7 linked regions of the Homo sapiens genome follow. The protein of the gene in region 1 interacts with the protein of each later gene in a biochemical or structural test. Each region holds a gene or a part of one and is shown in the gene's direction. Other genes may lie near its edges. The genes, in order: CYSLTR2, PREX2, PPP1R9A, RGS12, TJP1, MAST4 and MAST3.

The links.
Region 2: the proteins of CYSLTR2 (region 1) and PREX2 interact in a test that uses a peptide from one of them, tested with the Homo sapiens proteins (one large-scale study listed by IntAct).
Region 3: the proteins of CYSLTR2 (region 1) and PPP1R9A interact in a test that uses a peptide from one of them, tested with the Homo sapiens proteins (one large-scale study listed by IntAct).
Region 4: the proteins of CYSLTR2 (region 1) and RGS12 interact in a test that uses a peptide from one of them, tested with the Homo sapiens proteins (one large-scale study listed by IntAct).
Region 5: the proteins of CYSLTR2 (region 1) and TJP1 interact in a test that uses a peptide from one of them, tested with the Homo sapiens proteins (one large-scale study listed by IntAct).
Region 6: the proteins of CYSLTR2 (region 1) and MAST4 interact in a test that uses a peptide from one of them, tested with the Homo sapiens proteins (one large-scale study listed by IntAct).
Region 7: the proteins of CYSLTR2 (region 1) and MAST3 interact in a test that uses a peptide from one of them, tested with the Homo sapiens proteins (one large-scale study listed by IntAct).

The regions. Positions count from the first base shown.
Region 1 is NC_000013.11:48,705,929-48,708,827, forward strand, and holds part of CYSLTR2 (cysteinyl leukotriene receptor 2), read left to right. Parts: intron 1-888; 5' UTR 889-889; coding exon 890-1,930; 3' UTR 1,931-2,899. UniProt on the Homo sapiens protein: Receptor for cysteinyl leukotrienes. The response is mediated via a G-protein that activates a phosphatidylinositol-calcium second messenger system.
Region 2 is NC_000008.11:68,116,046-68,119,545, forward strand, and holds part of PREX2 (phosphatidylinositol 3,4,5-trisphosphate-dependent Rac exchanger 2 protein), read left to right. Parts: intron 1-2,504; coding exon 2,505-2,599; intron 2,600-3,386; coding exon 3,387-3,469; intron 3,470-3,500. UniProt on the Homo sapiens protein: Functions as a RAC1 guanine nucleotide exchange factor (GEF), activating Rac proteins by exchanging bound GDP for free GTP.
Region 3 is NC_000007.14:94,914,094-94,917,593, forward strand, and holds part of PPP1R9A (neurabin-1), read left to right. Parts: intron 1-3,500. UniProt on the Homo sapiens protein: Binds to actin filaments (F-actin) and shows cross-linking activity. Binds along the sides of the F-actin. May be involved in neurite formation. Inhibits protein phosphatase 1-alpha activity.
Region 4 is NC_000004.12:3,438,217-3,440,413, forward strand, and holds the end of RGS12 (regulator of G-protein signaling 12), read left to right. Parts: intron 1-1,238; coding exon 1,239-1,468; 3' UTR 1,469-1,697; downstream 1,698-2,197. UniProt on the Homo sapiens protein: Regulates G protein-coupled receptor signaling cascades. Inhibits signal transduction by increasing the GTPase activity of G protein alpha subunits, thereby driving them into their inactive GDP-bound form.
Region 5 is NC_000015.10:29,812,469-29,815,968, reverse strand, and holds part of TJP1 (tight junction protein 1), read left to right. Parts: intron 1-3,500. UniProt on the Homo sapiens protein: TJP1, TJP2, and TJP3 are closely related scaffolding proteins that link tight junction (TJ) transmembrane proteins such as claudins, junctional adhesion molecules, and occludin to the actin cytoskeleton.
Region 6 is NC_000005.10:67,159,393-67,162,892, forward strand, and holds part of MAST4 (microtubule-associated serine/threonine-protein kinase 4), read left to right. Parts: intron 1-1,063; coding exon 1,064-1,200; intron 1,201-3,214; coding exon 3,215-3,396; intron 3,397-3,500.
Region 7 is NC_000019.10:18,100,778-18,104,277, forward strand, and holds part of MAST3 (microtubule-associated serine/threonine-protein kinase 3), read left to right. Parts: intron 1-3,500.

The DNA.
Region 1 (2,899 bases):
ATTCCTTTCTGTTTAGAGAACTTCCTTTAGTCATTCTTTGTTTGTTTGTTTTTTGTTTTGTTTTGTTGTTGTTTTTTTTTTTTTTGAGATGGAGTTTCGCTCTTGTTGCCCCAGCTGGAGTGCAATGGCATGATCTCGGCTCATTGCAACTTCTGCCTCCCAGGTTCAGGCAATTCTCCTGCCTCAGCCTCCCGGGTAGCAGAGGTGACAGGTGCCTGCCACTGGGCCCGCTAATTTTTGTATTTTTAGTAGAGACGGAGTTTCACCATGTTGGCCAGACTGGTCTTGAACTCCTGACCTCAGGTGATCTGCCAGCCTCAGCTTCCCAAACTGCTGGGATTACGGGCGTGAGCCACCAAACCCAGCCTAGTCATTCTTTTAAGATAGGTCTGCTGGCAGCAAAGTCTTAGTTTTCCGTCTGAAAAAGTCTTGATTTTTCTCTTTGTACTTGAAGGATATTTTTGCTGGACATAGAATACTAGTTTGGCAGGTCTTTTCTTTCAGCATTTGAGAAATGTGCCATTTCTTTCTGTCCTCCATAGTTTCTGATGAGAAATCTGCTATTCAGTAGTTTTAGGCTGCAATATCATAGTAAGGTATTCATGTCAACAGGGTCAGTAGGTCACAAGTTCTCTAAGTTTGAAGCGTCAGCTTCAACCAAACAAATTAATGGCTATTCTACATTCAAAAATCAGGAAATTTAAATTTATTATGAAATGTAATGCAGCATGTAGTAAAGACTTAACCAGTGTTTTAAAACTCAACTTTCAAAGAAAAGATAGTATTGCTCCCTGTTTCATTAAAACCTAGAGAGATGTAATCAGTAAGCAAGAAGGAAAAAGGGAAATTCACAAAGTAACTTTTTGTGTCTGTTTCTTTTTAACCCAGCATGGAGAGAAAATTTATGTCCTTGCAACCATCCATCTCCGTATCAGAAATGGAACCAAATGGCACCTTCAGCAATAACAACAGCAGGAACTGCACAATTGAAAACTTCAAGAGAGAATTTTTCCCAATTGTATATCTGATAATATTTTTCTGGGGAGTCTTGGGAAATGGGTTGTCCATATATGTTTTCCTGCAGCCTTATAAGAAGTCCACATCTGTGAACGTTTTCATGCTAAATCTGGCCATTTCAGATCTCCTGTTCATAAGCACGCTTCCCTTCAGGGCTGACTATTATCTTAGAGGCTCCAATTGGATATTTGGAGACCTGGCCTGCAGGATTATGTCTTATTCCTTGTATGTCAACATGTACAGCAGTATTTATTTCCTGACCGTGCTGAGTGTTGTGCGTTTCCTGGCAATGGTTCACCCCTTTCGGCTTCTGCATGTCACCAGCATCAGGAGTGCCTGGATCCTCTGTGGGATCATATGGATCCTTATCATGGCTTCCTCAATAATGCTCCTGGACAGTGGCTCTGAGCAGAACGGCAGTGTCACATCATGCTTAGAGCTGAATCTCTATAAAATTGCTAAGCTGCAGACCATGAACTATATTGCCTTGGTGGTGGGCTGCCTGCTGCCATTTTTCACACTCAGCATCTGTTATCTGCTGATCATTCGGGTTCTGTTAAAAGTGGAGGTCCCAGAATCGGGGCTGCGGGTTTCTCACAGGAAGGCACTGACCACCATCATCATCACCTTGATCATCTTCTTCTTGTGTTTCCTGCCCTATCACACACTGAGGACCGTCCACTTGACGACATGGAAAGTGGGTTTATGCAAAGACAGACTGCATAAAGCTTTGGTTATCACACTGGCCTTGGCAGCAGCCAATGCCTGCTTCAATCCTCTGCTCTATTACTTTGCTGGGGAGAATTTTAAGGACAGACTAAAGTCTGCACTCAGAAAAGGCCATCCACAGAAGGCAAAGACAAAGTGTGTTTTCCCTGTTAGTGTGTGGTTGAGAAAGGAAACAAGAGTATAAGGAGCTCTTAGATGAGACCTGTTCTTGTATCCTTGTGTCCATCTTCATTCACTCATAGTCTCCAAATGACTTTGTATTTACATCACTCCCAACAAATGTTGATTCTTAATATTTAGTTGACCATTACTTTTGTTAATAAGACCTACTTCAAAAATTTTATTCAGTGTATTTTCAGTTGTTGAGTCTTAATGAGGGATACAGGAGGAAAAATCCCTACTAGAGTCCTGTGGGCTGAAATATCAGACTGGGAAAAAATGCAAAGCACATTGGATCCTACTTTTCTTCAGATATTGAACCAGATCTCTGGCCCATCAGGCTTTCTAAATTCTTCAAAAGAGCCACAACTTCCCCAGCTTCTCCAGCTCCCCTGTCCTCTTCAATCCCTTGAGATATAGCCAACTAACGACGCTACTGGAAGCCCCAGAGCAGAAAAGAAGCACATCCTAAGATTCAGGGAAAGACTAACTGTGAAAAGGAAGGCTGTCCTATAACAAAGCAGCATCAAGTCCCAAGTAAGGACAGTGAGAGAAAAGGGGGAGAAGGATTGGAGCAAAAGAGAACTGGCAATAAGTAGGGGAAGGAAGAATTTCATTTTGCATTGGGAGAGAGGTTCTAACACACTGAAGGCAACCCTATTTCTACTGTTTCTCTCTTGCCAGGGTATTAGGAAGGACAGGAAAAGTAGGAGGAGGATCTGGGGCATTGCCCTAGGAAATGAAAGAATTGTGTATAGAATGGAAGGGGGATCATCAAGGACATGTATCTCAAATTTTCTTTGAGATGCAGGTTAGTTGACCTTGCTGCAGTTCTCCTTCCCATTAATTCATTGGGATGGAAGCCAAAAATAAAAGAGGTGCCTCTGAGGATTAGGGTTGAGCACTCAAGGGAAAGATGGAGTAGAGGGCAAATAGCAAAAGTTGTTGCACTCCTGAAATTCTATTAACATTTCCGCAGAAGATGAGTAGGGAG
Region 2 (3,500 bases), on another chromosome or scaffold:
ACAATAATCACCTGTTACTACCGACCTCAGACAAAGCATAGTGGGACAATGTAATATTTCAAATCCTTCCCTTTTCTAATATGAGTAGCTTGGAAAAAGCATTTTTTCGCTGGTTGTGTGAGCCTAATTTGGGAGAGTTGTTCTGTATATGGATTGTGTAACACAGATAGCTGGTAAGAAAATTGTGCCTATACAGGATTAACATTGTTTTCAACTATCTGTTTCTGTCACTGGTTTATTGGGTAGTGAATAGGAGTTCTTTTGGCTCTTTTTTCTCTCTTTTCTTTTCATTGTCTATGTTCCAACCTAATTGGACTAATGTTCCTTGCCTACCTCGGAGACAAGGCTTGTGGTTTTTACTCTCTTGGATACCTTCTGTATTAGTTTTGTAGGGCTGCTGTAACAGATTACTACAAACTGGGCAGCTTAAAAAACAGAAATTTATTATCACACAGTTCTGGAGGCCAAAAATCTGAAACCAAGGTGTGGGCTGTGTTGGCTCCTTCTGAAGGCTGTGGAGGAAGGATCCGTGCCAGGCGTGGCTCCTTGACGCGTAAACGGCCATCTTCTCCCTGTGTCTCTGCACGTCATCTTCCCTCCATATGTGTCTTGTGTCCAAAGTTTCCCTTCTTATGAGGACATTTTATAGGGTGGCTTAAGGTCACGCCCTAATGACCTCATTTTAACTTGATTACCTTTGTAAAGACCCTATCTCCAAATAAAGTCACATTCTGAGGTACTAGGGATCACTTTTCAAACATATGAATTTTATTGGGAGACCTAGTTCAACCCAAAATACTTTCCCTCCAAACTCTGTTATTGTCTTCCTACTAGACTTCCAAATGATGTCTCCTCACGTGAACTTCCTTAATTCAAACTACTTTTTGTTCCTTGAATCCATGTATCACCTGATACCTCACTGAGGACTGTCATAACCAGCCACATAAGCTGTGTATACAACTTCAACATATTTTTCATTTATATTAATTGAAAGCAGAAACTATCTTCTTCACTCATTTATTATGCAGTGTTTTGCAATGAAAAGATATTGATTAAATAGTAATCAAAGTTCTCATCAGAGTATAACTAGCTACAAACTAGGAGCTAACATTAAAAATATACTTTTATCAAACACATGGGGGAAAGAGGAAGATTTTACATAATCCTCACCGCAAGCCTCGGTGGCAGGTTCTGATAGGAATTCCATTTTACATATCAGGAAGCTGAAGCCCAGAGGGCTGATATCATTTACCTATGAGACCAGGTGGTCTGGCTTCCCAGTTTGTCTCTTAACCACTCTACTATTCCAATTTCTATGTTTCCAAAAAGGATCTTAATGAACACATAAGAATTATTCTAGAGATTTAATAATAGATCAGACAGATTAACCACTTTTATCACTTCATTTACTTTTCACTTCTAAGCATCCCAACCTGCTCTTTAATAGGAATCTGTAGAGTTTTTCCCAGTGGGAAATTACATGTCTAAAAATACTTTCTTACCTCAAGTTCTAGTTATCAGATAATTAAAATTACCCTGACAGTTTCCCTCTAGGCTAAGATAGAAATTTTAAATGTAAATTTAAAGTTAAGGACGTCCTTTTTACTTATTCTGAGAGGAAAGAAAATACTTTATCTCCTGCACTATTTCTGAAATTTGTCCCTGTTCACACACAAACATATTGAACCTTTCTTTCCTTGGGCATTCATCATTATCAAGCACTTCCCTGTGCTAAAAGCTCTGAGGTGGAGACAGACAAGTTTCCTGTCCTCCCTAAGGAAGCTCAGAGTGTAACCAATAAGTTATGATTTAAGCCACCAGAAAGGGACAGAAATCACAGAACAGTATTTTGTCTCTATTAGCAAGTTATCTAATTACTGGCATGTATCATGAAACAGATTATAAAGAATTTTAAGTTTGGCATGACTCCTAGTTTTATAGCTAACTGCCCTTAAAAAATCATTTAGGATTAGATTATATGATACAAGAAAATTTGAAATATAATTGAATCAAAAATATGCCATCTTTGGCCGGGCGTGGTGGCTCACGCCTGTAATCCCAGCACTTTGGGAGGCCGAGGTGGGCGGATCACAAGGTCAGGAGATGGAGACCATCCTGGCTAACATGGTGAAACCCTGTCTCTACTAAAAATACAAAAAATTAGCCTGGTGTGGTGGCGGGCGCCTGTAGTCCCAGCTACTCGGGAGGCTGAGGCAGGAGAATGGCGTGAACCCTGCAGGCGGAGCTTGCAGTGAGCCGAGATCGCACCACTGCACTCCAGTCTGGGAGACAGAGCGAAACTCCGTCTCCAAAAAAAAAAAAAAAGACAGAAAATATGCCGTCTTTAAAAAGTAAGATAGACTGAGTTGAACAAGTTTATCTTTCTCATAGTTTTCTCTAAAACATACTAATAAATATAACTGATATAAGTTTATGTCATAAGAAATTGCAGGGACACCTGGGCAGATGCACTCTTACAGTAACATGAAACCTGTTGTTTTCAGTGACTGCAACAGCAATAGGAATTCCATCGCCTCCTTCACCAGCATCTGCAGCAGCCAGTGCAGCTCGTATTTCCACAGTGATGAAATGGACTCAGGTGTGTTCGTTGGTGAAGGCCTGTGGGCTTTTTGATATTAGTCCTATAGGAGATAACTTTAAGGTTTTAATTTCGTAGATCCATATGAATTTTTATTTTTACCTTTTATCAGTCACTCTCTGTGGCCACACATACTGCATTTCAGTTTTATGAGCTTGATAGTCTATTTCCCAATCCCATTTTAAAGGGAGTGAGTTAAAAAGCAATGAAATAAGCAAACTAATTGTAATCTTCAGATATGCTCCATTATCTCTGTATGGTTCTATGAAGGATTATAGGTACACAGGAAATATACTGGAAGTATTAGGCATGGTTGATGGGGATGGGCAGGTGTGGAGTTTGAAGCATTTAAGACAGCAGGTTCACCTGAGCTAGCTTTATATGTGGATGTTGAGGATTGAGGGTAATGAGAGAAACAGATTGATATAATTATCTTATAAATATATTATCTTGTGTGTGTTAAGAACAAAGACCTTTCATTCCAATTAGGGAAAATCTTAATTTTTGATTATGCAGTTTATGTCAACTCTTCAACCACTGGAGGAACATCATTTGAAAGAGTCTTTAACAAGTATCTTTTCTGGGAGGCACTCCGCCTTCAGAAGAAATAGTAACATCCCAGGAGCTATGAAATCTTTTGGAACTCTTTCTCTGAACATGAGAACTGTGCATGGAATAACAGCTTGTGTTTAATTTTTACATTTTATTGAATATTACAATATTTTGGTACGTTAAACATAAGATGAGTGATTTTGGTTTTTGGTTTTGTTTTTGTTTTGACATCTAGGTGATGAACTTCCCTTAAGTGTTCGCATATCTCATGATAAACAGGACAAGATACATAGTTGCCTTGAGCATCTTTTCAGCCAGGTACAATCGGGCATTTGTGGGGCTTTTGTTC
Region 3 (3,500 bases), on another chromosome or scaffold:
CTAACCTCAGTCTTTTCCTTTGAAGCTTAAACATACTTCCTCTTAAAGAAGCAACAGGGAATGTATTCTTTAAATAAATGATTTTTAGAACTTTTACATTCTTTTCCTGGCTGTCACTTTATTCTGTACTAGGTTAAAAATTCCTAGCACCTTTAGTTTTTTGTTATAGATCTTATTTATCATCTTTGTATGTGTAATATTGTCCTCAGTGACTACTTCAGTTCTTTTTATAGATGTTTTACATAGATATTTCCATAAGATGTCTTAAATCTGGACTTAGAAAAACATCAGAATAATAGTTGATCTTTCCTGTGTAGCATATACCTTGTACTTGTACATATACCTTGATTTTTAAAAATGGTCAGACTGTATTGCCAGCCATCAGTTAGTATGACTTTCCTATCTTTCACAGACAGTTATTTCTTATTAGATAGATTGTTATGTTTCATAGGGTCATGAAATATTAGAATGGGATTAATAATAGCAAATTAAAATCCAACTTTGAGATATGGCATGGGAGAATGTTATGGACCATGCTAATTCGAGATGGAATTATGCCTTCATTTTCAGGAATTTTTCAAAATGAAAGGATTGAATTAAAGTAAATTTGTCTTAGATGAATCAAAACAAGAGAGGGTGACATGTCATTTTTTTCTACTAATTCAGAACATTTATGGAGCCCCTAATATGTGTCAGGGACAATGCAAATATAACAAATACAACAAATACATAAAATGAGGAGCTGATGAAGTAAGGAGCTGCTGGTCGGTGGGACGTGTACAGCCCATTAAGGAAGCTCTCAGGCTGTTCCCAACTCTGTGCTTTGATGATCTTTCTAAGGTTGCTGCAGCCTCATTAAGGAAGTCACAACCTTTCTCTGTTTCTTATGTCCTTTGGATTGGTATTTTTTTTTCCCCTCAAATACTATTGTGTTACAATGGATTGTTATTCTTGAAACAGCATATCTGAAAAAGATTTTTCTAACTCACAGTAAGAAGGATATTGCAGAGTTAATATTGAGGTACATTGTGCTATATTTTGTGTTTTCTCAAATCATATGGAGCTTTACAGGATTAGAATTCAAATAATCAGCAAGGGCACCAGAGCTTCTTCAAACCTTACATGATAGTTGTTGAAAATGGATCTTCTTGTATTCTCTCCCTTTTTGGGGGCTCCGAGTCATAGTTAGGGCATTCATGGATATATGAAGTTTTTTTGTTCAGGATGGTTTTCAGGGAATAGTTCTGTTGAGATCCAACTTTTTGTCTTTGCGGAGGCTTCCTTTATAACAGTTTTGTCAGTGCTTCTTAAACTTTAATATGCATATGAATCACTTGGGAGATCTTGTTAGCATCAAGATTCTGATTCAGTAGGTATTCTATGGGAAATTACCTTGATACAATGGTTGAGCTACAAGTACACCAGCAGGCAAGCTATCTCAGAGGTTATGGAATAGAAGACTCAGAAAACAAATTAAAATGCTTGAATCACATGATTTACCAAACCAGTTAAACACAAATCCAGAAGCAAGAGGAAAGCTATGGAGTAAGTTAACACACTTCAGGTTCAAACCAGGTTGGAAGGACCACGCTACCTGTCCTGGATAAACAATGTTCCTATGTCCCATCTTTCTTTCACATAACCCTTCCCCATTAATGATGTGGTTATGAGGACCAGAGCTGATGTTTGAGCCAAGACTCCATAGACTAATGATTTCCTGGGTCGATGATACACACTTGTTCTGTTGAAGAGATGTGACAAATACACTTAGGTACAGCCGTAGCTTTGCTAGTTTGCCTGCTGATGAGCCATGGGACCATCCTTGGTGTCTTCAGTAGATGACTGATATGGAAGTAATGTAGCTATCAGTCCAGGCATAATGGTGACTTGGTATTTCCACTGCTTTTTGTCTATAAGTAAATCTCATTCATTTTATCATAATTTCTATTTATTTTATTGTTGTCATGTCTTACTCCCAGCTTACCTATTTATTACGCATCTGCTGACTGCCTTCATTTCACCAGCTTGCATTCTCATTATCAATACTTGGCCCAGCCTGAGTGTTGCCTCTGTCTCATAAGTTGTTAGTTTATTTACCATCTATGATTATCACTTCTTAAGTGTTTCATCCATCCCATTAGTTTTGTTTACCTCTATAATAGAATTTCATATTCTGAAATAATACAGGAAAACCACGTTAACAGTATGTCTGGAGGGGAACCTTAGATTTTACATTTCTAACAAGCTCTCAAGTGGTGCCGATGCCGCTGATCAAGAGATCACTCTTTGGAATATGAATTTGAAGTACAATCTTCTGGCTTCTGAAAGTGGCTGGCCATAGCATGTTAGGGAAGCAACATGTAATAAATTTCCTTTCCAGATGGGCTGCTATATCTGGTTGGGTGGAATAATATTCTCTGAAGATGAAATAAGGTATAATCTTGTAAAGTGCATGAATACTCTGTTTCTGGATCCCAAAGTGGATTATTATCCTTAACTCAAGGCATTTGGGTCATTAAAAAGTCACATCCTAGGCTCTTTGTGTGGTTTAAGTTTTTAGTTATAAAAAGTTGGGAGGAAGAAGTTTTTAATGGAATCAGAAATTTCATTTCTTTCATTCTTTTGCAAGTGTAAATTAATAAACTTAGTATAAGAATGGTCATATGATTTAACTTGCTTTTCTTGGATAACTTTGATGGTACAACTTTTTTTTTGTTTGTTTTTTGTTTTTTGTTTTTTGAGAGGGAGCTTTGCTCTGTCACCCAGGTTGGAGTGCAGTGGCACGATCTCAGCTCACTGAAACCTCCACCTCCTGGGTTCAAGAGATTCTCAGGCCTCAGCCCTCTGAGTAGCTGGGACAACAGGCATGCACAACTATTCCAGACTAATTTTTATATTTTTAGTAGAGACAGGGTTTTTACCATGTTGGCCAGGCTAGTCTCGAACTCCTGACCTCAAGTGATCTGACCGCGTTGGCCTCCCAAAGTGCTGAGATTATAGGCGTGAACCACTGTGCCCAGCCGATGGTATAACATTTAAATTGGATTTCCTTTTAAATTTTTATGTTTTATGACCTATGCTTCATAACCAGGTAAATGAAATATGTCAAATATTTTAATATACTTTGTAAAATCAAATAATGAAGATTTGTTGAATGAACCCCTTTTCTAAAATCCAGAGGTATAGCTATACTTTTAAACTGAACAGTGATCATTTAGTGTTTAAAAAGGGATTCTTTTGACAGCAGATTATTTCAGATGTTTACTGGTATTTATTTGTAATAGAAATATTTAAAGTTTCTTGTTTTTTGTTAATTTAATTAATTTTTTTTGAGACAAGGTCTTGCTCTGTCACCCTGGCTGTAGTGCAGTGATGCAGTCATGGCTCACTGCAGCCCTGACCTCTGGGGCACAAGTAATTCTCCTGCCTCAGCCTCCCATGCAGCTAGGACTACAGGCAAGCGCCACCATGCCTGTTATTATTTTTTTTTTTTTTGTAGA
Region 4 (2,197 bases), on another chromosome or scaffold:
CTGGCATGGACATGACTGTCTCAGGGCCTCAGCCCCAGGCTCACTGAGGAAGGGAGCTCCTGGACCCCTGCCTAGGAGACACGCTAGGTACGCAGGAACCTGCCCCCGAAGCCTGCTCCTCTGGGTCGGCAACGTCACCCCCACCGCACAGATGGGGGGGTGGGGTCACTGGGCGGGTCGGCAACGTCACCCCCACCGTACAGATGGGGGGGTGGGGTCAGTGGGCGGGAAGGGCTGGGCTCTCCCAGCACGGGGGCTTCACTGCCCCTTCCCAGGCCCTGGGGTCCTGCCATGGAGCTCCGGGCGGCACATGAACCCAGCCATTCTGCGTGCACCGTTCACTTTCCTTGGCCCCAGCCTTCGTTGGCCCCTGGGGACTCCACCCTGGCATAGACACAACTGTGTCTTCCAGGGGTCCACGTGGAGGTCACCAGATGTGGCAGGGCAGTGACGCCCTGGGTAGGGAGGCCTCCCGGGGGTGCTGGCAAGGAGATGGCCTGCCCATGTTGGGTCTAGAAGCTTCCAAGGCCGGTTCAGGCAGCCGGGATCTCCTGGGGCTGGAGTGGGCATTGGAGCCAGAAGTGGGGCAAGAGTCACTGACCAGCCGGAAAGAGGGGCCTCAGTAGGGGGGCCAGGGATGGAGGGGGAGGGGACACGACCGGGAGGCCCAGAGCAGGGTGTGTACGGTGAAGACGGTGCTGAGGCAGCGAGGCAGGTGGGCGAGCAGGTGGCCAGCCTGGCAGGGTGGGATGGGGCAGCAGACACAGGGCTCAGGGCCCGTTCCACCAGGCCAAGAGGGTCCAGCCTATCTGGAACTGAACCCTAGTGCTCAGCCCCCTGGGGGTGGCCCTTGAGGATGGGCCCTGGGCCTGGGGGGGCCCCTGAGGACGCCCCCAGGAGGAATTAGGGGGGCAGTTGGGGCGGGGGCTCTGCCGGGGGCCCAGCTCTGTTCCTGAGCTGCAGTGGGGAAGCAGGGTGGTAGGGTTTCTGAGTGGGTCGGCTCCCCCACTTGGTGGCAGGTGTTATGTGGAGGGCTCTGGGAACACTGCACCTCCCCTGGGCGTACCTGCCCCAGCCTGGAGGCCCACAGCGGGACGCCAGCTGCCTCTGGGATGTGTTTGGGATATTTCAGGGACCCCTACCATGCTGTCTGTGCAGGGGCCTTCGGGGTAGGGGGTGGGTTCCGGGGGCCCAGGGCCGGGCCAGGCAAGTGACAGCTTCTCTTCTCCTTGTGACAGGAAGTGGGACCCATGGCAGCCGAGACCTCCCAGTCAACAGAATCATCGATGTGGATCTTGTAACTGGCTCGGCGCCCGGGCGGGATGGTGGCATAGCGGGGGCACAGGCTGGCCCTGGGAGGTCGCAGGCCAGTGGTGGGCCTCCTACATCAGACCTCCCTGGCTTGGGCCCCGTCCCGGGTGAGCCTGCTAAGCCCAAGACCAGCGCTCACCACGCCACCTTCGTCTGAGCTGCCCTGGCCTGGCCAACTCTCCTGTGGACATGTCGGGGTGGGGCAGCCCAGGTGGATTCTGTGGGCCTCAGGGGGGCCACCCTGGCCACCACACCCTCAGGAGCCCAGCCAGGAGGGCAGGGGGTGACCTCGCTGGAGGCACTGGCCCCGGACATTCGCCATGCTGGCCATGGGGCTCCCTGGCCCTGGCCTCCTGCTGCCCAATAAAGCATTTCTGAGGACCCAAGCGTCGGCCTGGTGCTGGGTGCTGGGGACACAGACTCCTCGTTCTCGGGGACTCCGAGCACATCCCCAGGAGGTCATGCAGGAAACAGAGGGGCCTGAGGAGGAGAAGTGCCCCAGGGTAAGGTCAAGGGGGCTTTGAGGAGAGGGAAGCTTGGCTCCTGGGGCCTGAGGGCCAGGACCAGATGGCAGAGACTGGCTCTCGCCGTCACGTGGGGACCCTGCCCCAGCCTTGTTTAGCAGGGTGGTCTGAGGGCCTTTCTGGGGAGGGACCATGTAAACTGCAACTGGACGGCAGAGGAAGTCTAGAAAGAGCCCTGGGCCTGTGCCAAGGCCCTGGGGCTAAGGAGGGTCTGATTACAGAAAGGGAACCAGGTGTGGCTGCAGGGGAGGCCGGGGCCTTGGGGGCTGGGTTGAGTCGGAAGAGGCAGGGCCATTCCCCAGGTTGCCTTGATGGAACCCCTAAAGCCAAGTACCCTCGGTACAGGGTGGTTGGTGAGCTCC
Region 5 (3,500 bases), on another chromosome or scaffold:
GGGCTGTAACGCAGTATATGTAGTACTGCTTCCCGTTTGATTTGAAGGAAAAAAAGTACAGTAGTTCCACTCCCTTTTTCCCCTCCAATCCTGGAAACAAGGTCTGGCTCTGACTTTTACTTGCTCTTTAATCTCTTTTCTGTTTAGAGACCAAATGTAAACTCTGTACAGTTCTAAGAATAAAACTGTGTATAAATATGATAGATCACCATGCTGCTAAGGAAAATGTCTTTAAAAATAATAGTTTTGGTGGAAAATTTGAAGACGTAATCCTGTTACTTGACATACCCCTGATATGATAAAAATTCACCTTACTGAAAGACCATGAGTCCAGCTGTAAATTCATGTGTAGTGCCACCCATCTGTGACTGCTCAGTCATTGCTCATTTCAGGCCTGCCTGAAAGCATTCACGTGCTCAGCATTGTGTATGACTGAGCATTATAGTAGCTGAAGACAAGCTAGTGGAATGAGCCAGTCATTTCTAATTAGCAAAGTTTTGATATGTTAAATAAAAAGATAGTTTATGTCTAGAATGATCCTCCTGGAATATTTGACTGGAACTTGCTTTGCACCTCTGAATTTTGAAAGCAAATCTTGAAAAACCTTTTTACTTTAACAACTTTTAGTCTTGTAGAAAGAAATAGACATTAGGATAGTTTACAGATTTTAAAGTTAATCCTATAAAATTGGTGTGTTGCAGTATTTCTTGCATAAGCCAGCAATAAAAATAAGACTTTTGCTCTCTCTGACCTAGAGTGCATCTTTATTTATTTATTGCAGAGAAGAGTGGCTTCAGGTTGCTCCTTTATGGGCTAGCCAGGTGCTTTATTTCCATTCCTCTTAAACAGATAAATTCTTAATAATGAGCAGTATGTGGGGAATACGTGGGTAGGGAGTTTTATCTTATATCCTAAGCATGGATGAAAATAAATGGACTCTGAATGATTGCCTTTACCACAAGAACACAGCTTTAGATCATGAGAACACCAATGTTACCAAACTTTGTACTGTAAAACACCATTTGAAATGTGATAACAAAACCCTGTCATATATGTAGTGCTCAATACTGAATCTCAGGTGGCCCTCACTTTGGGATAGATCAAGAGATAAGGTTTTATTAGTTTGTGTTGCGGATATATTTCAGTTGATATACTGAAAATACTGGGAAGTGAGTTAACTGGTGAATGATCTCAATTCTAGTTTATCATGTCCGGAAAGGAGGTAAAACAGAAGCTGATATTACTTTCTGTGGATTCTAATTAGGAACATAAGATTAGCGTATACCTGGTTTAATTAATTTTTTTTGACTTACCGAAATATTTTTTCCTTTTTAAAAAAATGTAAATTCCCAAAGACTGAAAAGTTCATTTTTCTTCTTGGTTATCTTAGGAATTTTCACGCTTTTGGAATTGTCATTATCTTGGAGATTGTACAACAGTTTCTGGTAACTGAATATCACCAGTTAAACTTAATATAAGATTAGCTCACTTAATTTAGTATGTAATTTTAAAATTCAGGAGGATACCAGTAATGACTAATTCTTTTTGTTAGCTTAACACATATTAAATGAGTACATTTTGTTTGGGATCCCGATCCTAGAAATTTACAGTTTTCAACTGCTATACGCTGTAATGATCACTTTGTGAATTGTGTAACTCATTGTTGAAGAAACAAAGGATTTGCATTGTTTACTCTTAAAAATACGAGCAAACTTATGGTCATCCTGTAATAACAGAGCATTCTTGTGTGCTTTCTTCGTTGGAGGAGGTGACAAAGTCATTTTCTAAACCTGGGCTTGCTGTTTAGCAGAGTTTCTGTATTTTTCCTTGTTAATGTTTTTAAATGTTTGAATTGAATCTGGATACATTGATGTAAGTGTTTTCTGCATATGTTTGGTATCAATATCTCAATAGGAGGGAGACATTAAGAATTATAAAGTAATTGGCTTATATGCTTAACAGCTCCTTGAATATACTGACAAGGCAAATGAACACTATACTAGCTGTTACTGTTACATTTAGGGTTCAAGAAGCTGTGAAATATGTAACAATTTGGATTCCTAAAGCGGAATTTTACATTCAGCAGATATTTGTTGGTTACCTCGTGTGTACCAATCACTGTTGTAGGTGCTGGAGATGCAGCAGTGAACACATCTCTGTACTGATAGGGCATTTTAATGGTGCGGGTAGAGAGCAGCAAATAAAATTCTGTCCATAATGATAAGTGCTAGAATCCCTAACATGCCTTTTCTGGGTCATATCCTCCCTTCTTCAAAGATTGCATGTATCTTGTCTTCTAGGTTTCTCATTTTCTAGTTTTTCTTTATAGTTACCACCTAATTATGCATTCTGAAAGCACTAGTTTTGACTCTCTGAACTTTGCGCATACAGAATCTTCTAGTGTGAATTCTGTTGTATATGGCTTCTTTTGCTCAGCATTATGTTTGTAAGATTATGTTGTGGAGAACTGTAGCTCATTAGTTTTCATTCAGTTCTTGTACTTCATGGTATTCCATTGTATGAGGACTTTATTGGTTTCGGGAGAAAATAGTTTCAGTTAGACTTCTGTGGCTTTTTGGAGAAAAATATTGTATATGTCTGTCTGAGGGGCAAGAATTAGATATGCATTATGAGGCAGTCATTGGAGTACCAACAGCTGAGCAAAAGGTAGTAAGCTTCTTTTGGTGTTCCTATGATTATCTTGAAAAATCAAGTTGGTCTTAGTTTGGAGGATATTTTATGACTAAGATGTTTGTCATACTAAAGTATGTTTTAGTAGTAAGTATTGAAGTATGTTTTAGTAGTAAGATATCCACTTACCTGACTGATCAGACCACCAAAAGCCACAATCAGGGGAAATACATGAATCTGGCAAAAATGAGTCTGCCTTTCAAAATATAATTGTGGAAGTTTTTCCTGGTAATGTCATATAAAGGTACTAAGGAAGGTTTATTTACTGATTTTTTTTTTCTAACAGTGGCAGTTATTGGAGTATTAATACTTACTGGAGTGTTAATACAGAAGTACACTATTTTGATGCTGTATCACCTATAAAAATCAAGTCAGTAGCCATGGCAAGTAGGCTTACATTTTAGTTATAAGTGTGAGAAATATGTGTCAAAACAAACAGTAGCCCCTTATATTGCATGCTGACTCTGTGACAGATACTGAGCTAAGTGTTTTATGTGCATTATCCCATTTAATCTTCACAATTCTGTTAGATACTACGATTATCTCTGTTTTTACAGGTGAAGGATCTGAGGTTAAATTTACTTGCCATAGGTAATCATACATCTACTTACATGTTCTATAAGTCATACATTCACATCCTTTTATGTTCGTGTGTTGTAAGAGAGCACCAGGGAGAAGAGTATGGGATGGTGTTAGGTAAGTCTTAGACCAGAAAAGCAGCATGAATCATGAAAGCCAGAAGAGAGGGCACTGCTCCATCAGAGCACAAGCCAGTTTGTCTAAAGGAAGCAGCTCTTGCTCAGCCCCAG
Region 6 (3,500 bases), on another chromosome or scaffold:
AAATCAAGGGGGAAGGTAGATGCTATCTTTAAGACAGTCATTCCCTGTCTTTTCAGTCCTCTGCTGCCACCATACCTAACTCCCCCCAACTCCCCTTCACTTGGTACCATGTTGAGCTGAGCTCTAGGTATCTTCCAGGCATGGGCCTTTAAAAAGATCCTTTTCCTTGTACCTCTTGTACTTTCATGGTAATCGGGGCCATCTGTGACCTTGAAAGGACAGGTTTCTCCCCTGGTTATTATGAAATTCAGGAAGGGTAATTGATGCCAGGGACTACCCACCTGCCCTGGGCCCCCCTCGGCCTGACTGCTGACTCCACGCTCAGTTCCATCCCTAGAGGCTGCCCAGCAAGCCCCTTCCCAGGATTGAGAGAAAGGACACCGAAACTCACAGAAATTACCTTACCCTGTATGACCTGGTTAAAAAGAGGTTTCCTACTGGCTGGCATAAATGTTCCAGCTCTGCAAACTGATAGGTTTTATGGTGATAGAAAAGGAGCCTTTTAAAATAATTAAAAATAAAAGTCTCATTCGGTTTTGTTACTCTACAATTTTTAGGCCAAAGGAAAAACACAAAAAGGAGAAAAAAGAAAAATCAACCAAGAGCAGCCAGCCACTGGGAACATTAATACTTAATACCTGTGGAAGAAGTAGTTATCTTATTTATAGTGTTCTTTCCTTGTGTTGCACTGGGTGCAAAAGGCTTTACAGACTTGCTCTCATGTGATCCTCAAATGAGCCCCAGGAGATAGGTAGGATTATATTGTTAATTGGTACAGGAAGTTGAGGGTAGGGAGGGTAGCAGCCTGGTAAGGGCACAGTGCTTGGATTTGAACTCAGATCTGTGGACTCCAGAACTCACCCTCGTAAAGAAACTTCATATTTTGCCTTCCACCCAGTTTGTATTCTGGCAGGACTTCTTTGATTGAAGGGTTATTTAGAAACAGAAGGCCTTTTATATGTATGTTCCTTTCTATTTGTATTTGTCTATGAATCTCTCATCTCTGTTCTGATCTTGCTTCATCACAGCATTTCCCTTTAATGCCACCTCATCTTTTCTTTAGAGTGGGAATAAGGTGTCAATCACTACTACCCCATTTGAAAACACATCAATCAAAACTGGACCAGCCAGGAGAAACAGCTATAAGAGCCGGATGGTGAGGCGGAGCAAGAAATCCAAGAAGAAAGAAAGTCTCGAAAGGTTAGTAAAATCAGTATTCTTTTTAAGTTTGGTGTATACCTATGTTGGGGAAAAGTTACCCCTTAATTAAATGCTTATATATGAAGAAGATCTATTTTTCTGTGAGAAATTTTATGTTATGGTTCACATATATGTATACATTAAAATCCATATTCATAATAGCATCAACTTCCATAGTAAAAGGATTTACATATTTACATTGTGGAAGGATTCAGATTGTTTTTTATCATGTGTGAATGTCAGGAAAAGCCCTTTGCTGTTTTTTAAGCCTCTTCACTTGATTTCAGTTGAGTTGGATTGAGGAACTGGATCTTCAGGTGGTTTTTAACATTAAATCTACATTTAAAATGTCCTTTACGTTATCAAAAAACAAACAGTTGCTATTTTTAAAATGCCAGATATTCTAAAATTACTGTTACCTTTAAAGGTTCCGAATAAGCCTAGAAATAAAAGGGCTTTGTTTTACTCACTGAAAAACGAACTAGCTTATATACTTTTGTAGCCTGGGAAGCACTGATCAGTATCTTTTTGTGCTGCTTGCAGACACTAGCAAGAGGTATGTGTTTCTGGCAGGGCTGTTTCTTGCCAGGCAGCTCTCTGGGTGTGCCTCCTTTGCAATGCCACAGCATTTCTTTACTCAATTGGGCCTGATGAGTCACATCATATTAAAAGGATTTTTGATGATAGAAATGTAGAAAAACAAGCAAACGAAAAGCCATGTATTAACTCTGGGGGGAAAAAAAGTTATACAAGAAAGGAACAGAATTATGTTTCATATGGCCCAGCTGTGAACAATATTTATAATATAAGATAAAATACCGGCCGTTTTTCTAACCAAAAATTTTGCTTTCGCTATATTGGGAAGAATAGAAAAGGGGAAATATATTTGGTTGCAAGGTAGAAGGTGGTTGTATAAGAGCTTAATTATCATCTTTCATAGTAGAAAATCAACAGGTAATTTCTAAAACTGAAAAACTAAAAAATAGCAGTGTACAAACATTTAGCAATATGTAGACAAATGGGAGAAGAAACAGGTAAAAGAATACAAAGCGACTTCTTTGGGGAGTAGAGAAAAATTCGAGTAGAGGAGTTGCTGTTTTTCATTGTATGTTTATAGAAGTATTTGACTTTTTCACCCAAGTACATTTATTACTCTGATTAAAATTACACACACATAAGATCTTCTTTATTATTATGCTTTATATTTTGGCTGTGCTTTAAATCATTTAGAACAAATTGTTTCAAGGGCTAGCAACCAGAAACTTTGTTTTAAGCTTATGTGGAGTGGGTTAGATCTTACCATATATAGGCTTATATGGTAAAAGAACTTTGCACAGCCCGATGCCCTGCTAAGGTGTCAGAAGCTGTGCTTTTGCCTTAAGATGTGCTCATTGAGTACCAAATCCACATTTGCTTCTGCTGCAGTACAGTGTCTGCTGCCCTGCTGATACGATACGCTTCAGCTTCACCTTTCTCGGTTTTTTCTATGTCGTTGTACAGCCTGCATTGTTGTTAGGAATATTCAAGAGCCCACAATGGAATAAGCACAGCAAATAGCCCTTCATTGGCCTCTGCCCAGCCTATCACCATTAAAGAATTTGATTTCCAATACAATGGTTTTGCTTCCAGAGGTTTACTTTGTATTATCTCTTAGTTAAGTTGTGTCTGCATATTTAGGGGTAGGTACTCAGAAGCTTTCAAGCAAAGAGCATCCTCCTCATATACCTAACAAGTAAATGAATGTATTTTTAATGCATTTTATATTTTTCCTATTTTTCCAACTCTTCTTAAGTGTTTGGAATTGAGAGAGGCTCCATTGTCTACTATTAAATACTCTTCCTTTACATGTCATAAGAAGGTTTCTAATAGGAAAGTGGTGTTCTGCTCTTTAATAGGATCTGCTGTTGTATCCCTGTCCCTCACACGGAGTTATTGAGCTGAGCACAATGGTATTTTGGGGAGGCAGCAATAGTTCTGAAAGAAGACTGAACAATTTTTTCCTGTTTTTCTGTAGGAGGAGATCTCTTTTCAAAAAGCTAGCCAAGCAGCCTTCTCCTTTACTCCACACCAGCCGAAGTTTCTCCTGCTTGAACAGATCCCTGTCATCGGGTGAGAGCCTCCCAGGTTCCCCCACTCATAGCTTGTCTCCCCGGTCTCCAACACCAAGCTACCGCTCCACCCCTGACTTCCCATCTGGTGAGTGAGTCTCCTGGTCTAAACAGCAGAGGGGAGGGGAGGTAAAGTCATGTGAGGTCCCCAAAAAACATGAAGCTTGTTCCAGCTGAAAGAAAGCAGGTTGA
Region 7 (3,500 bases), on another chromosome or scaffold:
TAATGGTCCAGGAGCACCCCAGCCAATCAGGGGGTAGATCGCTGATGCGAGCCAATCAGATTTCCTGGAGGCCAAAGGCCAAAGAGTCCATTCACAAACGGGTGCTGACCGGCCAATCCAGACGCATAGCCCAGGGCGTCCTCTCCGGTGGTGACAATGTGAGGCGTGCTGTTGGCTGTGTGCAGGAAAGGTCTGAAAAAGGATCCGGCCTGGCCCGCGGGCGGCCAGTTTGCGACAGCCCTGGGTCCAGGGAGGAGGTGGAGACCTTCCCAATTTGGGTTAAACTCAGCCTCACGCATAACGTGTGCAGGCACCGGGTAACGTGAGCTGTTATTACTACTACTACTATTATCTTATTACATTTATCATCTCCTACTTGGACCTTTGCTTTACACATGACCGAATTTCAAAACACCAGGTCCCACAAACAGAGCATCCCCCGGCAGAGAAGGGCTAGAGCCTGTATCTGGACTTTTGTCTCTGCCGCTACTGGGGTGGCTCCTCTAGGTTCAGCCCTCCAAGGTGATCCTGCTTTCTCATGGACAGCTTCCACTTATTTTCCTCCTCCTCCTCCTCCTCCTCCTTCTCCTTCTCCTCCTCCTCCTCCTCCTCCTGGAAGCCCTGGGGCTGGTGCCATGTGGTCCATGCTGACTTCTCTCCCATTTAATTCCAGGGGCATCGAACTTCCAACCGGGCTTGGTGCCCAGCAGGCTGAGTCTCACCTCCCTTTGCACGTGCTGTTTGCTGGGCATGGACTGGTGTTTTCCATGTGCCTGCAGGCTTTGTTTGACACCCCCTACTCCAGGAAGCCCCTTAGCTCTCCTCTCTGTGTGCCTCCAACCCCTCTTCTCCCTTTGAGTCTCTCTTTTTTTAGACAGGATCTTGCCCTGTCGCCCAGGCTGGAGTGCGGTGGCCCAGGCTGGAGTGCAGTGGCGCCATCTTGGCTCACTGCAGGCTCCGTCACCTGGATACAAGCGATTCTCACAGCCTCAGCCTCCTGAGTAGCTGGATTACAGGCGAGCGCCACCACACCCGACTAATATAATTTTTATATTTTTTAGTAGAGATGGTGTTTCACCATGTTGGCCAGAATGGCCTCAAACTCTTTTTTTTTTTTTTTTTTTTTTTGAGACGGAGTCTTGCTCTGTCGCCCAGGCTGGAGTGCAGTGGCGTGATCTCCGCTCATTCCACCTCCCAGGTTCATGCCATTCTCCTGCCTCAGCCTCCCGAGTAGCTGGGACTACAGGCTCCTGCCACCACACCCGGCTAATTTTTTGTATTTTTAGCAGAGACGGGCTTTCACCGTGTTAGCCAGGATGGTCTCCATCTGCTGACTTCGTGATCCTCCCACCTCGGCCTCTCAAAGTGCTGAGATTACAGGTGTTAGCCACTGCGCCTGGCCTTTTTTTTTTGAAACGGAGTTTCACTCTTTCGCTCTTCTTGCCCAGGCTGGAGTGCAATGGCACGATCTCGGCTCACCGCAACCTCTGCCCCCGAGTTCAAGCGATTCTCCTGCCTCAGCCTCCCAGGTAGCTGGGATTACAGGCATGCGCCACCACATCCTGCTAATTTTGTATTTTTAGTAGAGACGGGGTTTCTCCATGTTGGTCAGGCTGGTCTCGAACTCCTGACCTCAGGTGATCTGCCTGCCTCAGCCTCCCAAAGTCCTGGGATTACAGGCATGAGCCACTGCGCCCGGCCACCTTTTTTTTTTTTTTTTTTGAGACGGAGTCTCATTCTGTCACCCAGGCTGGAGTACAATGGTGTGGTCTTGGCTCACTGCAACCTCCGCCTCCGGGGTTCAAGGGATTCTCCTGCCTCGGCCTACCGAGTAGCTGGGACTACAGGCGCCTGCCACCACATCCAGCTAATTTTTGTATTTTAAGTAGAGACGGGGTTTCACTATGTTGGCCAGGCTGATCTTGAACTCCTGACCTTGTGATCCGCCCACCTTGGCCTCCCAGCGTGCTGGGATTACAGGCGTGAGCCACCGCACCTGGCTCAAACTCTTGATCTTAAGTGATCCTCCCGCCTCAGCCTCCCAAAGTGCTGGGATTACAGGCATGAGCCACAGCACCCAGCTGCTTCGGGTCTCTCTTAATCCCTCCAGTATGGGGGTGCTCCTGCTGTGCTATGTCTTCTCCAAAATGGGATTTCCTCAAGGTGGGGCTAAAGCTTGTTGGGGAGGCAGCATCCCCCAGCCTGGGCAAGCGCAGACGGGTATACCATAAATATTACCTTTAAAGGGCAGTTTCAGGGGGTCGGGGCCTCCCCAACCTCCACTCCTCTGGGTGGGAACCACTCCCAGGGGAACAGCAGGCACAGAGGGAGCTGTGGGTGGAAAGCAGATGGTGCGGGGACCGAAGGGTCCGGGAGTGGTGCCAGGAGAGTTCTGTGTGGTCCAGCTTCCCCGGGAGCCTTTGCAGGGAGCTGCCGATTTTGCCTCACCTCTCTCTGCCACTTTAAAAAAACATCTTCAGGCCAGGCACAGTGGCTCATGCCTGTAATCCAGCGTTTTGGGAGGCCGAGATGGGAGGACTGCTTGAGGTCAGGAGGTCAAGACCAGCCAGACCAACATGGTGAAATCCTATCTCTACTAAAAATACAAAATCAGCCAAGCGTGGTGGTGGGCGCCTGTAATCCCAGCTTACTTGGGAGGCTGAGGCAGAAGAATCGCTTGAACCCAGGAGGTGGAGGTTGCAGTGAGACAAGATCGCACCATTGCCCTCCAGCCTGGGCGACAGAGCAAGTCTCCATCTGAAAACAAACAAACAAACAAAATATTCACATCTTTTTGTCTTTTGGAAGCAACTTTCAACTGGTGGTTATTATTCACGTCTTGATCATTGTCTTGACTCCCATCCATCCAAGTCTCCCCCAGCACCAGGCTCTGAGCTTGCTACTCATTGATTCCTCCAGGGACCCTATGTCACTGGGCCATTTTCCAAATGAGAAAACTGAGGCACAGAGGGGTTAAGTCACTTGTCGGGTCACACAGTGCAGGAGTGGGGGAGCCAGACTGGGAACCTAGGACTGTCAGAGTTTTGGAAGGAAATGCCTGGATGGGGTGCAAGTGGGACCCCCCACCAGGGTTCAAATCCCTCCCTGTTTCACGTGGGGTAGTGGAGGAAGTGGTATAAGATCCCACAACTGGCTGGGTGCAGTGGCTCATGCCTGTAATCCCAGCACTTTGGGAGGCCAAGGCAGGTGGATCACTTGAGACCAGGAGTTCAAGACCAGCCTGGGCAACATGGTGAAACCTCATCTCTATAAAAAATACAAAAATTAGCCGGGTGTGGTGGCACATGCCCACAATCCCAGCTACTCTGGAGGCGGAGGTTGCAGTGAGCCAAGATTGCACCACTGCATTCCAGTCTGGGCGACATAGCCAGACGCTGTCTCAAAAAAAAAAAAAAAAAAAAAAAAAAAAAAAAAAAAAAAATTCCCACAACTATTGGAAGGGGAAGAAGGAGACCCTAATGGCCACGGTGATGGTGGTG